Regions from separate parts of the Homo sapiens genome. Here region 2 is linked to region 1. The links come from fine-mapping of genetic effects on gene expression. Tissue or cell type: whole blood. Region 1 holds a variant in brackets; the other region holds the start of a gene. All regions are shown on one strand. Distances are from middle to middle.

The links. PIP is the estimated chance that this variant, and not a neighbour inherited with it, causes the effect.
Region 2: E2F5 starts here. The variant in region 1 is fine-mapped to the expression of E2F5 in whole blood (TOPMed, PIP above 0.99).

Annotation. Positions count from the first base shown.
Region 1 is chr8:85,199,653-85,207,435 of GRCh38, forward strand. It overlaps E2F5 (E2F transcription factor 5), which reads left to right. Exons shown (of 8, transcript NM_001951.4): 2 at 2,495-2,604; 3 at 3,442-3,603; 4 at 6,525-6,568; 5 at 7,773-7,783. Among named protein-coding and RNA genes, the nearest start is that of RBIS, 17 kb to the right of the region's middle. RefSeq lists a silencer at 948-1,007. The variant C/T (reference allele first, on the strand shown) is at 4,554.
Region 2 is chr8:85,173,668-85,181,450 of GRCh38, forward strand. It overlaps E2F5 (E2F transcription factor 5), which reads left to right and starts at 3,487. Exons shown (of 8, transcript NM_001951.4): 1 at 3,487-3,987. The coding sequence starts at 3,754. E2F5-DT (E2F5 divergent transcript) reads right to left here and starts at 3,374. Exons shown (of 3, transcript NR_134311.1): 1 at 3,164-3,374. RefSeq lists an enhancer at 3,148-3,317 and silencers at 3,418-3,947, 3,958-4,347.

The DNA of each region.
Region 1 (7,783 bases):
ACAAGGTAAATCTGTATACACACAAACTTTAACCAATCTTAAACACAGTCTTACCCACGATCCGTTTCAACCTGTATTTGATGATGAGGCTGACTAGCCAACATTTAAGTAATCACTATACAGTAGACATTGCGGTAAGATTATCCAGTTTAATTCCCACAATACTCCTTTCAGTATATGTTATACCATTTTATGAAAAAGGAAATGAGGCTTAGTGAGCTTACGATGAGGCCAGCTGAAGATAGGAAGTGGCAGCCCTGGGACTGGATCTCAGTGTGTTTAGCTTCAGAACTTCTTAAGAATGATGGGACTGGCTGGGTGCCATGGCTCACACTTGTAATCTCAGCACTTTGGGAGGTCGAGGTGGGTGGATCATCTGGGGTCAGGAGCTCAAGACCAGCCTGGCCAACATGGTGAAACCTCGTCTCTACTAAAAATACAAAAATTAGCCAGTCGTGGTGGTACACACCTGTAGTCCCAGCTACTTGGGAGGCTGAGGCAGGAGAATCAGTTGAACCCAGGTGGTGGAGGTTGCAGTGAGCCAAGATCACACCACTGCACTCCAGCTTCGGCAAGAGAGGGAGACTCTGTCTCAAAAAAAAAAAAGAATGATGGGACTTTCTAAAATAAAACCCTCCTGGAGATTCTTTTACATATGATCTGTACATGTTAGTCATTTATATGTTTACATACTTAAATAGTAAAGTATTTGAGAAATAATGTTTAGTTTTAGAAACTAGGGGTTAAATGTTGTGATTGTTAAGCAGTAATAAATATAAATGATAAACAAGACACCTTTTTAAAACTTTGAGCTAAAAATTAAATCTCATGGCACTTTGCCTAATGACCTAAGCTAGATCTTGTGGTCTGGTTCATACAAACATGTTCTGATACCAAAACCAGAGTGCTGTTGCTATGGCTGTGAATGCTTTTCTGTGTGAGTACATAGATACCAGTAACACAGAGCCATGGCTTGGAGTTCTCTGAGTTACTTCTCTAGAGAGAGGAAAGTGAGAAATGAAACCTCAGCTTCAGATTTGTACCGTTAACTTTGCAGTCGTGTATTGCTCTTCATAAAAACAGCCTCGAAGTCAAGAGTAAAAATTCTGTGAAGGTCGATAAAACAAGAAGGGAATTGCTAAGTACAAGGGAAGAAGGTATCAATGAAACAAACCATGGCTAGTCCTGCTGTTAATTTTCTGGTTCTCTAGAAGGGACAGTGCCAAGTTAGAGTTGGGGAACAAAGAGCCCCACTCTCCTGCTTTTCCTTCTTCTGCCACATCCTGCTTATTCTCCTGGTCCACTGAGGCATGAATCCCCTTCTTGAGGAAGACCTGAATGATGGGACAGCAGTAACCTGGGGGTTTTGGTGGCACATACAAAAAAATGTGTCTGAGAGAACTGACATTTCTCTTAAGATCCCAAATGCCTGTACAGTGAATATAGCTGTCAGTGGCACCTTCTCTGGGGGGAAGGCAGGTCCAGATTGCAAACACTGTGCTGAGCTAGGTTTTCACAGAATCAAGAAAGTAGTGATGCTCTCTGGGAGAGCTGTTAGCAATTATGCGAAGCTGGGAGAGCTGTTAGCAATTATGTGAAGCTAAATCCTGTTCATTTAGATATTTTAGATAATGTGCTGAAAATTGTCAGTAGAGACACAAATATTTGTAACTACCATGGATCTTAAAATGTGGCTCCACATTCAAAATAGGCTATTGTCTAATCCACTCTGAAAACTTCTTTGAGGTTCTCTTTGTTCTTTTGGGAACACACATCAAAAATGTGAATTGGAACTAATCAGAGGAATTGTTTGTTGAATTCATAACATGATAGCATATATTGTTTTGTTGATCTTATCTAATGTGAATGCAGCTACCAAGTTTTTGTATAATAGTTGCTAGTGCAATCTTGAGCTATTGATTCTGATTTCTTGCTGATTTTATGCTTTGTGTTAGGATGGCATGATTCATTCCTCTGTTTTCGTTATTAATTTAAAAATGTAGATATTTATTTCAAGGTATTATAAGTGTGCATATAGTTCAGAATTTCCAAGTGTCTTAATTACCAAAATAAATTGCTGAGATGTAATTCTTTAAAATTTTAAAAAATAAGTAATGCATCTTTAGATGAGACTGTTTATGAACAGAGAAATAAGATAGGAGGTGACATGGATAGGCAATTAGTAGCTCCTCCTCAGGATTAGTCCATAAGGTGACACAAAGTATTCTTATTGTGTTCTTTTATTTTTGCAGGCTTTGTGTCATGACCTTAATTTCTTTTTCTGTTCCAACATCTGCTAGCTTTTAAATGGAATAATTTCTTTGGTATTTGCAGTGTTTGGGAGATGCTTTGAACATGCTCAGCTATTGTCCCCAAGCAACTGAGTGGGTCAAATTTGAGATTGGACTTGTTGTGGATTTAATAATCAACCCTTTTTGGCTTTAAAATATGACTTGCCCTTTATTTCACTGTTCTCGTTGTCTTTCCTGAACAGGCTGCTGATACTTTGGCTGTGAGGCAAAAAAGGAGAATTTATGATATCACCAATGTCTTAGAGGGAATTGACTTGATTGAAAAAAAGTCAAAAAACAGTATCCAGTGGAAGTAAGTTACAAACCAGCACCCTCTTCTGAAACCTTTTTTCTTCTCAGTGCTCTGTAAAATTTGACCTTCCCAATGTTTCTATCTCCCAAATCCTCTATTTCAGTCAGGCCCCTCAGCTTTCCCTGAACACACCTTTCTGGGCCTCTGTGTCACTCCTGTGTTGGGTGTTCCCTTGCTCTCTTGGATATTGGGTTTTCGCTCTTAAAATTCAAATCTTACTTTCTCCCTCAAGCTATTACTCATTTGGCACACATTGCATACTGTCTTGTATTAATCTCTTCCTAACTCTTTACCTGTCCTTGAGAGCAAGAACTACTTTCATAGGAATTTGTACTTTGTAAATAGTAATTAATTGAAACGCATGTTGTCATTAATTGTGGCCTGGTTATACGTTTGAATGTAACAATTTCTGTTCTTCTAATGTGTCCCCTTTGACCATAGTTTTTGTCTTGTTTTGTTTTCGCCAAAATTCCACCAAAACATTAAAATGTTGTAATTTATTTTACCAGCACCTCAGTCACATCCTGAGACTGCTAGGTGTGACTGCTGAGCACACTCTTTTGGTACCCAGTCACCAACCAGTCTGGCCTTCCAGATGACAAAAAAACACTGTAGGGAAGATTGAGAATTTTTGTAATTTGGTTGTTCTTGTCAATAAATTTTCTAAGCAAGAAGTATGGTGTTTAAAATTTTTAAGGATTTTAGTGCTTGATTTTAAGAGTGTAAAGACTTCTGTCTTGAATATATTACTAAATAAGTCAGTTTTATTACAGTAAAAATTAAGTGATATTAACCTAGATCTGATACTGAGGATATTAATTCTCATATGTTTTTAAGAGGTGTAGGTGCTGGCTGTAATACTAAAGAAGTCATAGATAGATTAAGATATCTTAAAGCTGAAATTGAAGATCTAGAACTGAAGGAAAGAGAACTTGATCAGCAGAAGTTGTGGCTACAGCAAAGCATCAAAAATGTGATGGACGATTCCATTAATAATAGATATCCTTTTAAATAAGTTATGCATATACATATAGCTTTGGAATATGTATGTATAAATCATTTCAGTCTAAAGATCATTCACTTTGTTTTTAGACAGTTAAGTTTTATAAGTAAATATGACATTTTAATTTTATTATATTCTTATATACTAATATTTTCTAAATGTTACCTTTTTAAGTTATATAGTACAGATCCGTTAGCGTTATTCCTGTGTTGCACTGAGGGGGAAAAAGAGATTAGCCAACTTTTGGTCTACCAATTGATAGAATGCAGTATGCTAGCCAGTGTGCTTAGGAAATCTGTGAATATTAGAAGCCATTGTTAAGTACATTTGTATTTTTAAATAATTATGTTCAGTGTTCTGAAGTATAAAATTCAGCAGCTCTCAAAGTTTTGAAAATTTTTCGTTTAAAGATGAGATATGATGTGTCCACAATCAATCCTTGATACTTTCTGCCTAACATGAACCCCAAAATAGTTCCTACTGGAGAACAGGGGTCTAAGTCGTGTGTGCCTATCAACAATATATATTGGGGGAAAAACATTATTATATATAATACATATAATATCATATATAATATATAAAATATATTTATATATAATATATAAAAACATTATTATATATATAAAAACACATATCCATGTGTTTCTTACAAACCACCGTCTTCTCTCAGGTATCTGTGATTCTCTTAGTTTATGAACTTACCTGTACTCTTAAAGAAACTAACCACATTTTACCTTGTAGCACCTCATGAAATTTTGACTAATGTATACAATATAATTTACTTTTCACATTTTCATGTATTTGGTGAACAAGTCCATGATCTCATTTGTTATTTCCTTTGTATGGATCAGAGCCCCTTAACAGTTTGAGAACAATGGGAGTTTTCAAGCTGTGTTCTGTGGAGCTCTGAAATTCAAAAGCCATTAATCTATTTTATCTTGGACTT[C/T]GCTGCCCTGCTTTACGAGATGCTGGCCATTCCCATTGCCCCAACCATGGTTATGTGTGATATATATAAAGTTTTCTGTATATTATGGTATTTTGACATCTCCATAAACCTTTCTGGCTGAGGAGAGACTGCCCATCCTGGGACTAGCCACTTCTTAGAAACAGCATGGGCTCATGTCCTTTTTAGGGTCATGGATGACGCTGGAAACCATCATTCTCAGCAAACTATCGCAAGGACAAAAAAACCAAACACCTCATGTTCTCACTCATAGGTGGGAATTGAACAATGAGAACACATGGACACAGGAAGGGGAACATCACACACCAGGGACTGTTGTGGGGTGGGGGGAGGGGGGAGGGAGAGCATTATGAGATATACCTAATGCTAAATGACGAGTTATTGGGTGCAGCACGCCAACATGGCACATGTATACATATGTAACAAACCTGCACGTTGTGCACATGTACCCTAAAACTTAAAGTATAATAATAATAAAATTAAAAAAAAAGAAACAGCATGGGCTCAGCCAGGAGCATCCCTTTGATATATAAACTAACCAGTCAAGGTCCAGACCTCCTCTCTCCAGTCCATACACCCCAGGTGGCAATATTCCTCTGCCTTAATCATCCCAGGGTCAGGTACCAGACAACTGGGGGACTACCTGCATAGCTTAGAGCCCACCAAAATTATCCAAACTAGGCCAAATGCAGTGGCTCACGCCTGTAATCCCAGCACTTTGGGAAGCCAAGGTTGGCGGATCACCTGAGGTCAGGAGTTTGAGACCAGCCTGGCCAACAGGGTGAAACCCTGTCCGTACTAAAAGTACAAAAACTAGCTGGGCATGGCAATGTGCATCTGTAATCCCAGCTACCAGGGAGGCCATAGGAGAATTGCTTGAACCCAGGAGGCAGAAGCTGCAGTGAGCCAAGATCACACTACTGCACTTCAGCTTGGGCGATAGAGCAAACTCCGTCTCAAAATAAAACAAAACAAAATTATCCAGACTAGCTAATCGTAGTGTTCTCCCCACCCTGCTTTTTTTTTTTTCCTGAGATGGAGTCGCTCTGTTGCCCAGGCTGGAGTGCAGTGATGCGATCTTGGCTCACTGCAACCTCCACCCCCCGGGTTTAAGCAATTCTTCTGCCTCAGCCTCCAGAGTAGCTGTGATTACAGGTGCTCACCACCATGCCCTGCTAAGTTTTGTATTTTAGTAGAGATGGGTTTCACCATCTCTAGACTAGACTTCTTTTTTTATCTGTCCATGTGTGGCAGCCCCTCTGTGCATATGGTCAGGCTGGTCTTGAACTCCTGACCTCAAGTGATCCACCTGCCTCGGCCTCCCAAAGTGCTGGGTGGCGTGAGCCACCATGCCCAGCCACCCTGCATTTCTTTTCCCAAGGAAACCCCAATAAAAGCTCTGGGCTAATGCTTTCCCCTTGCTCCTGTCTTCTGCCTCCTGACCACCTTGTTGTCTTAACCATGTGGCCCTGAGTAGCCTGCCTTGCCTCCCGTCACTAGGACCTATGAGTATAATACTTTGTTTTTCTGAGCCTTTCTTTAATCCTCTGTGTCCTCTTGTGGCCATACCTGACCATTTAATACAAGAACAAAAAACAACGATCACAGAAAATTCCTGATGTGGAAGCTGATATGGTTGCTGATGGCCTCCTTTTCCCCATCCATTCCCTTCCCCCAGAAACCTTTGCCTCCATGAAGAATGTGCACTGCTTTCCATCTCTCTCCTAAGGGTCCTCAAATGTCACAAAAATCAGAATGGCTTCTTCTAAGAGCAAAGGATGGGAACTCCTTTGTCTTTACCTTTCTAGACTAGACTTCTTTTTTTGTCTGTCCATGTGTGGCAGTCCCTCTGTGCATATGGTCATTTAGTTATTTTGACCTTCAGATGTATTACCTTAATTTAAATGCCTACGGCTTGATATAAATGTCGTTCCTTAACTCCTATGACAGTACATTTTCCTATGTAACTCATGAAGACATCTGTAATTGCTTTAATGGTAAGTACCATTAGACTTTTCCTTGCATTCTTCCTCTCAACCTATTTAGTGGAGGGTGATTCAGAATTCCCTGTGTCCTCATCCTGTCATTATTTTCAGAAGTTGTGGGCATTGTGTCTCACTCCACCATGCCGTGTATTGATAGACTGCTTTTGTTTCTGTTTTCATGAGAATAGCTGCTTTTCACAGCATTCAGTTCATTAGCTCCACTGGTAGGGATCAACTGTGTGTGGAAGGGGAAGGGGACAGGGACAGAGGGCAAGCTAAATCAGAGCGGGATTAAGCAACTTTCATTGTCACACAGTCACAGAGTTAGTGACCAAACTTGAACTAGAACATGGTTCTCATCAGCATTGTTTATCAAACTATATGCAAGTATGCTGGTCTCAAATGAAACTCAAAGAAACCATAAGGAAAGAATTAGGTGAATCCATCTTATAACCAGGAAACCTATTCCTATGCAATTTGCTGCCCCTGTGTTTTCTCCTTAAAATAACAATATCATGTTAATAATTATAATTATTAATATAACTAAAATGGGGGGACGTGTGTTCCCAAAATTATAGCACAAGTAAAATGAAATTGTGCATATTTAAATTTATGTGTATTATCCACCTATTTAAAAAGATTCTGCCAAGTACCTCATCAAGTGGAATCTGACTTTCTATGTAAGACTATGTTGGAAATAAGTATAGGACTATTGTTCTATTTTACCACTGTATTTCCTGAGTTTTTTAAGGAAGTTTGCTGAGACTTCTGTTAATCTGCAACTCAACAGAGATTTGTTGTAGAATTTGGCTTCAAAAATAATAAAATCATTTAAGCTCAACATTTCAGTGTCTCATACCTAATCTCCACTATCCTCAGTCCAATGAACAGTGTTATTTGAGGCTAAATGGTCTTAAGAATCTCAGACTTTACAGGAGTCTTAGTCAAAGCAAAATCAACTTGAGCTGAATTTGTTAATGAGAATCATACAGCTAACCCATGTATAATACTAATACATGTATTATCTTATTTAATCCTCAAAATAAATCTATGCAGTAGGTTGTGTATCCCCCATTTTATAGAATTGAAAATCAAAGCTCAAGGTCACCTAGTTTGGGATTGAACCAAACACTCTGATTCCAGAGCCCACATTCTTGCCACTGTATTCCATGATCAACAGTATTTTATGTAACTTTTTATATTTATTTTTGACCAGGTGATACACTT
Region 2 (7,783 bases), 26 kb before region 1:
TTTAAATTGATCCTGAATCTCTATAAAAATGGCATTTGTGAAATTCCACAAATGTTAGATACTATAAGTTTAATGAGCTGTGGACTAAGAAATCATTCTGTTTTGAAATATTTAAGCCTTCCTTCTTAGTCCTGAACTAGCTAAGGAGCTGCACTTCCAAAATGCATTTAAAAAAAGAAAATTTAACCAGGGGCATATAAACAATATTATAATTGAAAATAGTATCTACCCAACTAATCAGCGTAAATTGAATTTAATGAAGGATTACTGTTATGCATTTATTACCCTTATAGGTCAATGAAATATAGTTTAGTTCAATTGGATTTTTTTTTTTTTTTTTTTTTTTAGGATAGATTCTCACTCTGTCACTCAGGCTGGATTGCAGTGGCAGGATGACAGGTCACTACATCCTTGACCTCTTGGGCTCAAGTGATCCTCTCACCTCAGCCTCTCTAGTGGCTGGGACTACAAGTGTGCACTACCACGCCCAGCTAATTTTTGTAGTTTTTGTAGAAATGGGGTTTTGCCATGTTGTCCAGGCTGGTCCTGAGTTCCTGGGTTCAGGCAATCCTCTTCTCTCAGCCCTCCAAAGTGCTAGGATTACAGACAGGCGTGAGTGCCCAGCCAGGCGTGAGCACTCAGCCAGCTTTGACTTTTGTTGGAAATAATTTTTAAGCCTTTGTCAGAAATGGCACAAAGAACTGATGTAGGAATTTACAGCCTTTTGAGAGTTATCTCCTTTATAGTCAAAAGGATACAGAAATAAAAGTTAAATTACAAAACTGATCAATATCATGTTCTTAAACATTATTTGTATCATAACTTTTAAAAAATCATGTTTCTTAGTTTTTTTAAAAAATAGAATTTTTAAAAACATTTAGCAATATTTAAAAAACTTTTGCATTATCAATCTCTGTTTTTTGTCGATTTTTAGGAAAAATATATATTGCATTATTTTTCATTGTGCTATTTGGCGTTTCTCAAAGAATGACTATGTTGTGCATGAGAATTATCTGAACTGTGAAAAATGTGGACTCACAGGTCATATTCTCATATCAAATGCTAATTTGATCCCTGGGGTTTGGATCCAAGCATCTAGATTTTTAACAAACATTGTAGATGATTTTTTCCCCTAAGGTCTGGGAACCACTGGTATAAGCGATTTTTAGCTCTTCAGACAGACATAAGATTTTGAATGCTAATTAAAATGGCTGCTAATTTGTGAATAATTTCTAATTGAACCCCAGGCAATCTAAAGAGATAAAAAATTCATTGTGAAAAACACAAATAACAGTGCAAAATAAATTGTTAATTGACCTTTTAGAATCACTAATAATATAATTGCTTTGTAGAAAACCTTTTAAAGCTGAAATTTAAAAAATATTGTTTTTAAAAATTACCAAGATAGCTACTATAAAATATGATTACATGCCATGGGATGAACTATATCTCCCCAACATTTGTATGTTGAAACCCTAACCCTCGGGCCTTTGGGAGGTGATTAGGTTTAGATGAAATCGTGAAGATTGAGCCCTCAGATGGAATTAGTGCCCTTATAAGAAATCTGAGAGCTTATGCTGTCTCTGTTCTGTCTGTCTTTCTCTCTCTCTCTGCCATTTGACACAATGAGAAAGCCACAATCTGACAGCCAAGAAGGGGGCCCTCACCACAACCTGGCCATGGCAGCCTCCTGATCGTCGACTTGCAGCCTCCAGAACTGTGAGAAAATTAATTTCCGTTAAGTCACCCAGTTTATGGTACTTTCTCAAACTAAGACACCATAGAAGTGTAAGTTTTAAAAATATTAATACATTTAGTGTTATTAATTCCTGTCCCTGCACATATAACACAATGTTCTGTTATAAAGTTAAAAACAAATTAGAATCTTCCTAATTCAGTATGTTCTAAGAAATACTACTTGACAATAATCAATAAAATAAATTTGCAAAACTTGTCAATGATGTGTCCCATGTCAAATCAAATAAAGATAGCCTTTCTTGGATAGGTTGTTGGAAAATGGTTGTATCAACTGAATTTTTCATGTTTTACTTCAGATTTTCAATTTTAAGTTTTGTTTATAGATTTGATTAAAATAAAGGTTATTATGAATAGGTTATTAATAAAGGTTATAAAGTTCTGTGCCTATGATGTGTTATAAATGGTGTGTTCAGCTTTACTAGTTAATGCTGTTGTATTTGATGTCGCTTCAGTGACCTTTTTTGTTAGTTTATTGTTACTTAAAATTAAGCAAAATCTTTCTTGCATGAAATCTTCTTGATTAATTATTGCCATATAGAATTTTCATTCACCTAATCTTTTTTTTTTTTATTTGAGACAGAGTCTTGCTTTGTTGCCCAGGCTGAAGTGCAGTGGTGGCATCTCGGCTCACTGCAACACTGCAACGTCTGCCTCCTGGGTTTAAGAGATTCTCCTGCCTCAGGCTCTGGAGTAGCTGGGACTATAGGCGGGCACCACCACCCCCCGCTAATTTTTGTATTTTTAGTAGAGACGGGGTTTTACCATGTTGGCCAGGTTGGTCTCGAACTCCTGATCTCAAATGATCTGCCTGCCTCGGCCTCCCAAAGTGCTGGGATTACAGGCGTAAGCCACCGCGCCTGGTCTCATTCGCCTAATCTTTATTGTCTACTATATTCAAAGTGTTGAGTGTGACAACAAGTCATTTAAAATTTAGTCTGGATTCTCAAGAGTTTGTAATATAATGAGGAAAAAATCCCAACGACTTTCTTTTACTCAGATCTCCATAATGTCATTTGCCATCAATAGTTTGGAATATCACTGAAGTCCAAGGGCCTGTGGCTACCCAATATTCCAAATACAATATAATTTGGTTCAAATAAGATATTAAGAACTTTGGTCAAGAACTTTGGTCAAACACAGGAGATCTGGAATCTAACGGCATGTCTTTGGCAATTCACAACCTCTCCCTCTACACGTTTCTCCATGTAGAAAGTAAAGGCCTTGGAAAGGATTGATGAAAACCAACCCTAAAACTCCACGATGCCTTTTTCTGTACTCCGAATCTAAAAGGGTGAGCTATGAAGTAAAACTCTGCACTTGGTCCAAGTCATTGAAATATTTGCAAACGATGCTAGAGCTCGAAAAGAGCAAAGATAGCAGAAACCGTCCAGAGAAAGTAACCTACTGCTGAAGCTCTGCAAACTTGAGCAGTCAACCAACTTCACCGCTCACAAACGTTTGGCCGCTAGGCATTGTGACTTTCTGCCCAGATAAAAGTCTTTTTTTCTTTTGTCTCCTTTTTTTCTTCCTCCCTGCTTTGCCGCGTGAGATTACCACTCCTCGGGTCAGCTCGCGAACGCCAGGGAGGCGAGTGTGAAACACACGCGCCAACACCCCTCCTCCTCCTCGTGCGCTCCTCCTTCCTACAGAAAAATGTGTTTCTAGGCAACGGCGGGCGGCGGCGTCACTTCCTGCCATTTAAACTCAGGTCCCCACCCCTCGCAGCCCCTTCTCCTCGTTTCCACCCCTCCCCCCTCGGTCGTGGGCCTCATTCACGCTTCCCCGGGCTTGGGGAGGGGGCGGAGGCCCGGCGTGACAAGCGGCCCAGACTCCCGTGGGCGCCGCACACCTGTTGTTTGCAGCAGCCAGCGACCCGCACTACCGCTCTCGGCGGGCGGGGAAGCGGCCGCAGCGGAGCCGACCCGGCAGGTGGCCGCGGGCGGGGCCGGCGAGCGAAAGTGCGCGGGGGCCCGACCACCGCGGGGCCGGGACGCGATGGCGGCGGCAGAGCCCGCGAGCTCGGGCCAGCAGGCGCCGGCAGGGCAGGGGCAGGGCCAGCGGCCGCCGCCGCAGCCTCCGCAGGCGCAAGCCCCGCAGCCGCCCCCGCCGCCGCAGCTCGGGGGCGCCGGGGGCGGCAGCAGCAGGCACGAGAAGAGCCTGGGGCTGCTCACTACCAAGTTCGTGTCGCTGCTGCAGGAGGCCAAGGACGGCGTTCTGGATCTCAAAGCGGTGAGCTCCGGAGGCGGGGACGGGGGCGGACTTCGGAACCCGTGGCCCCCGGGGAAGCCCAGCCCCTCGCCGCGTGGGTCTAGCGGCGTGGTGTAGACGCGCCTTGCGGGGACCCGGGACCGGGCAATCCGAGGACCATGTGGCCTGCGCCCGGGTCGTGGACGCCGGGATGGGGGAGGGACGAGGGACCAGGATGGCACCGAGCGGACGCGTAACCAATGGGGCCCGGCGCCACGCTGGGCTCTCGACAAAGAGCCCAGGACCTCGAGCGCGCCCGCGTGGCTTCTGTCTCCGGGCGCAGGGACCTGAGGGTAACCGAGTGTCTGTTGCTCTGCGTCCACCTGTGGCAGAGGCTCACGGGGTAACGGGCGCTTTGCCCGGAGACACCGTGGATATCGATTTTGCTGTTAAGAATGGATGGTTTTAATAGGCGATTCCAGTTGGAACCATGTTCCTGTAGTTTAAATAAAAAGGAGGAAAAACAAAACCCAGTCTGCCATCTCTACCAGATGAAAGAAAAAAAAAAAAGAGTACTTCTTTCCACGCCCCTCCCCGATAAAATAGTATTAAATCTTCCTTGTGCACTTCTTTCATCACCCTGATAGTTAGGAGGGGTATTTGATTTGTGACTTCATTTGGCATGTGTCATGGGTTTCCAAAAGTGAGATCTGCTGTCACACGAAAAGGGGATATTTTACAACTTTCACCCAAAGAGGTGGAAGTGCTCAGTAAACTCTCTCCCTGCGTCGTCCTTTACAGCGTTCAGATTTTTCAAACAGGAGCAGGCATCAAAAGCTGTTCTGTCATACAGAATGACTTAACCGATCTAGGAAGGATTTGGAAGAATTCAACAGCGCTCAGGATAATGAGAATGTGGTCACTCCGCGCGAAGTTTAAGAACTAAAGTTTTAGAAACAAACAAACAAAAAACACTAACTGCCCAATAATCACTGCAAATCCCCTTTGACTCCCTAAATGTGGCCTTACTTGGAGGATTGGCCCCAGCTCCCAGGGGAGTGCCTGGACCACCTTACCTGGCTTGAGAGTGTCACTGCATCCTCAAGGCTCTGCATAAAGCAGTGGCAGCTCCCTGAATGTAAGGACCAAGACTTGCAGGGGCCAACTCTTCTGCTAGAGGCCCTCCTCCAGTGTAGCCCAAGGGGAAGTAGATCTTTTCAGTGCCCTCTCCTTTCCCTGGATGTAGTTGGTGTTCAATCAGTGATTGTTGAACTGAATTACCTAAATTGTTCAACTTCATACAACTGAGGCATGCTGCACATATTTTGCATTTTGGTAAGTAATTTCTACTATTTTCTTTTTGATATGTTATTCCTGGAATTTTTTTCCCACCTCTGGAAATTCCTTGTTCTCTTTTTTCCACCACAGCCCCTTCTTCCTTTCTCTCCCTGAAAGTGATTTATGGCATGTGTAGTATTTAAATTGTAGTGAATTAAAATGGATTCTGTTTAAAGAATTTCACAGGAAGTCATGAAGTTATCAGAGAAAGCCAGGAATGTTACAAAGCACAGGTGGCAAACTGCTGTTCAAAATCTAGAAATTCAGCTGTAGCCTGTGACTTTGGTGTAAGAAAATCAGGGAAGTTTGGGGTTTTCCAGGTAAAACTGAACTCTGACGGCTGGACTTTGAGGGCTTCTCCCTCAGCTTGCCTCAGGATATGGTGGAACTTTGCCCTTTCTTGACTTGAAATTCTTTAGCTTCCTCCTGTTTCATCTGTGGCTATATAATTGCCCTACAGAAGTCACAGAGGCAGTGAGTAGGATGTAAAGTTTGGTATTTCATGACAATAATTGCTTTATTCATTCTGGAACTCTCCTAAAAATTCAAAGGTTTCTACAATAACACTGTCTCATTATATTAATGACTTCATACTCCTAGAAAAGAGTTTGAATGTCTTTAGTTTTCATATATATGTATGAAAAACATATGTTTTATGTATTTTACGTATATTTTTCATTTATTTATATATACTTATATATGTAAAAATCTTTTTTTTTTCTTTTTTGAGACGGAGTCTTGCTCTGTCGCCCAGGCTGGAGTGCAGTGGCGCGATCTGGGCTCACTGCAAGCTCCGCCTCCCGGGTTCACGCCATTCTCCTGTGTCAGCCTCCCGAGTAGCTCGGACTACAGGCGCCCGCCAGCGCACCCAGCTAATTTTTTTGTAATTTTAGTAGAGACAGGGTTTCACTGTGTTAGCTAGGATGGTCTCGATCTCCTGACCTTGTGATCCACGCGCCTCGGCCTCCCAAAGTGCTGGGATTACAGGCGTGAGCCACCGCGCCCGGCCAAAAATCTTACATTGAAATCTTTCCAATGATATTTCTTATTATACACCATAGTAAAAGATCGTTAAAGCCTTTTTTTTTTGAGACTGAGTCTTGCTCTGTCACCCAGGCTGGAGTGCAGTGGCAGATCTCTGCTCACTGCAACCTCCACCTCCCGGGTTCAAGCGATTCTCCTGCCTCAGCCTCCCAAGTAGCTGGGATTACAGGTGCCCGCCACCATGCCCGACTCATTTTTGTATGTTTAGTAGAGAAGGGGTTTCACCATGTTGGCCAGGCTGGTCTCGAACTCCCAACCTCAAATGATCTGCTTGCCTCAGCCTCCCAGAGTGCTGGGATTACAGGCGTGAGCCACCATACCCAGCCCATTAAGACATGTTTGATAATACATATTAAAGATGGACTCACACTGACAATTATAAATTTCCTCTAATTTGAAATTATAAAGACACATTTTCTCTTGTATTCTTACTTTGGTGGGGGCATATTTCAGCATAATTTTTTTGAAACTTTTAAGTTATACACTTGACTTTTAAACGCAGTTAAAGAAACTATACATATATATATATATATATATATATATATATATATATATATATATGGTTTTTTGGTTGGTCTTGTTTTTTTTTTTTTTTTTTTTTGAGACAGAGTCTCGCTCTGTGGCCCAGGCGGGAGTGCAGTGGCGCAATCTCGGCTCACTGCAAGCTCCGCCTCCCGGGTTCATGCCATTCTCCTGCCTCAGCCTCCCGAGTAGCTGGGACTACAGGCACCCGCCATCACGCCCGGCTAATTTTTTTTGTATTTTTAGTAGAGACGGGGTTTCACCATGTTAGCCAGGATGGTCTCGATCTTCTGACCTCGTGATCCGCCCGCCTCGGCCTCCCAAAGTGCTGGGATTACAAGCGTGAGCCACCGCGCCCGGCCGGTCTTGTTTGTTTTTTGAGACAGGGTCTTATTCTGTCGCCCAGGCTGGAGTGCAGTGGTACAATCTCAGCTCATTGTAACCTCCACTTCCCGGGCTCAAGTGATTCTCCTGCCTCAGCCTACCAAGTAGCTGGCACTACAGGCGTACACCATTATGCCTGGCTTATTTTTATATTTTTAGTAGAGACAGGGTTTTGCCATATTGCCCAGGCTGGTCTCGAACTCCTGAGCTCAAAGCTATCTGCCTACCTTGGTCTCCCCTGTGAGCCACCGCTTCCGGCCTTGAAGAAACAGTTTTTGAATATCCCAAAGAATAAAAAAGTATATCAAACTTCAAGTAAAATATCCAAATATTTTGGATATCATAAAGTATCCTAGACCACATAGATGCTATTTCTTTTCTATCTTATGCTGCTGGAGAATAAGAACGTAAGGTTGTATCTTAGTGACACATTTCTTCTTTTTTTTTGAGACGGGAGTCTCACTCTGTCACCCAAGCTGGAGTGCAGTGTCGCGATCTCCACTCGCTGCAAGCTCCGCCTCCTGGGTTCACGCCATTCTCCTGCCTCAGG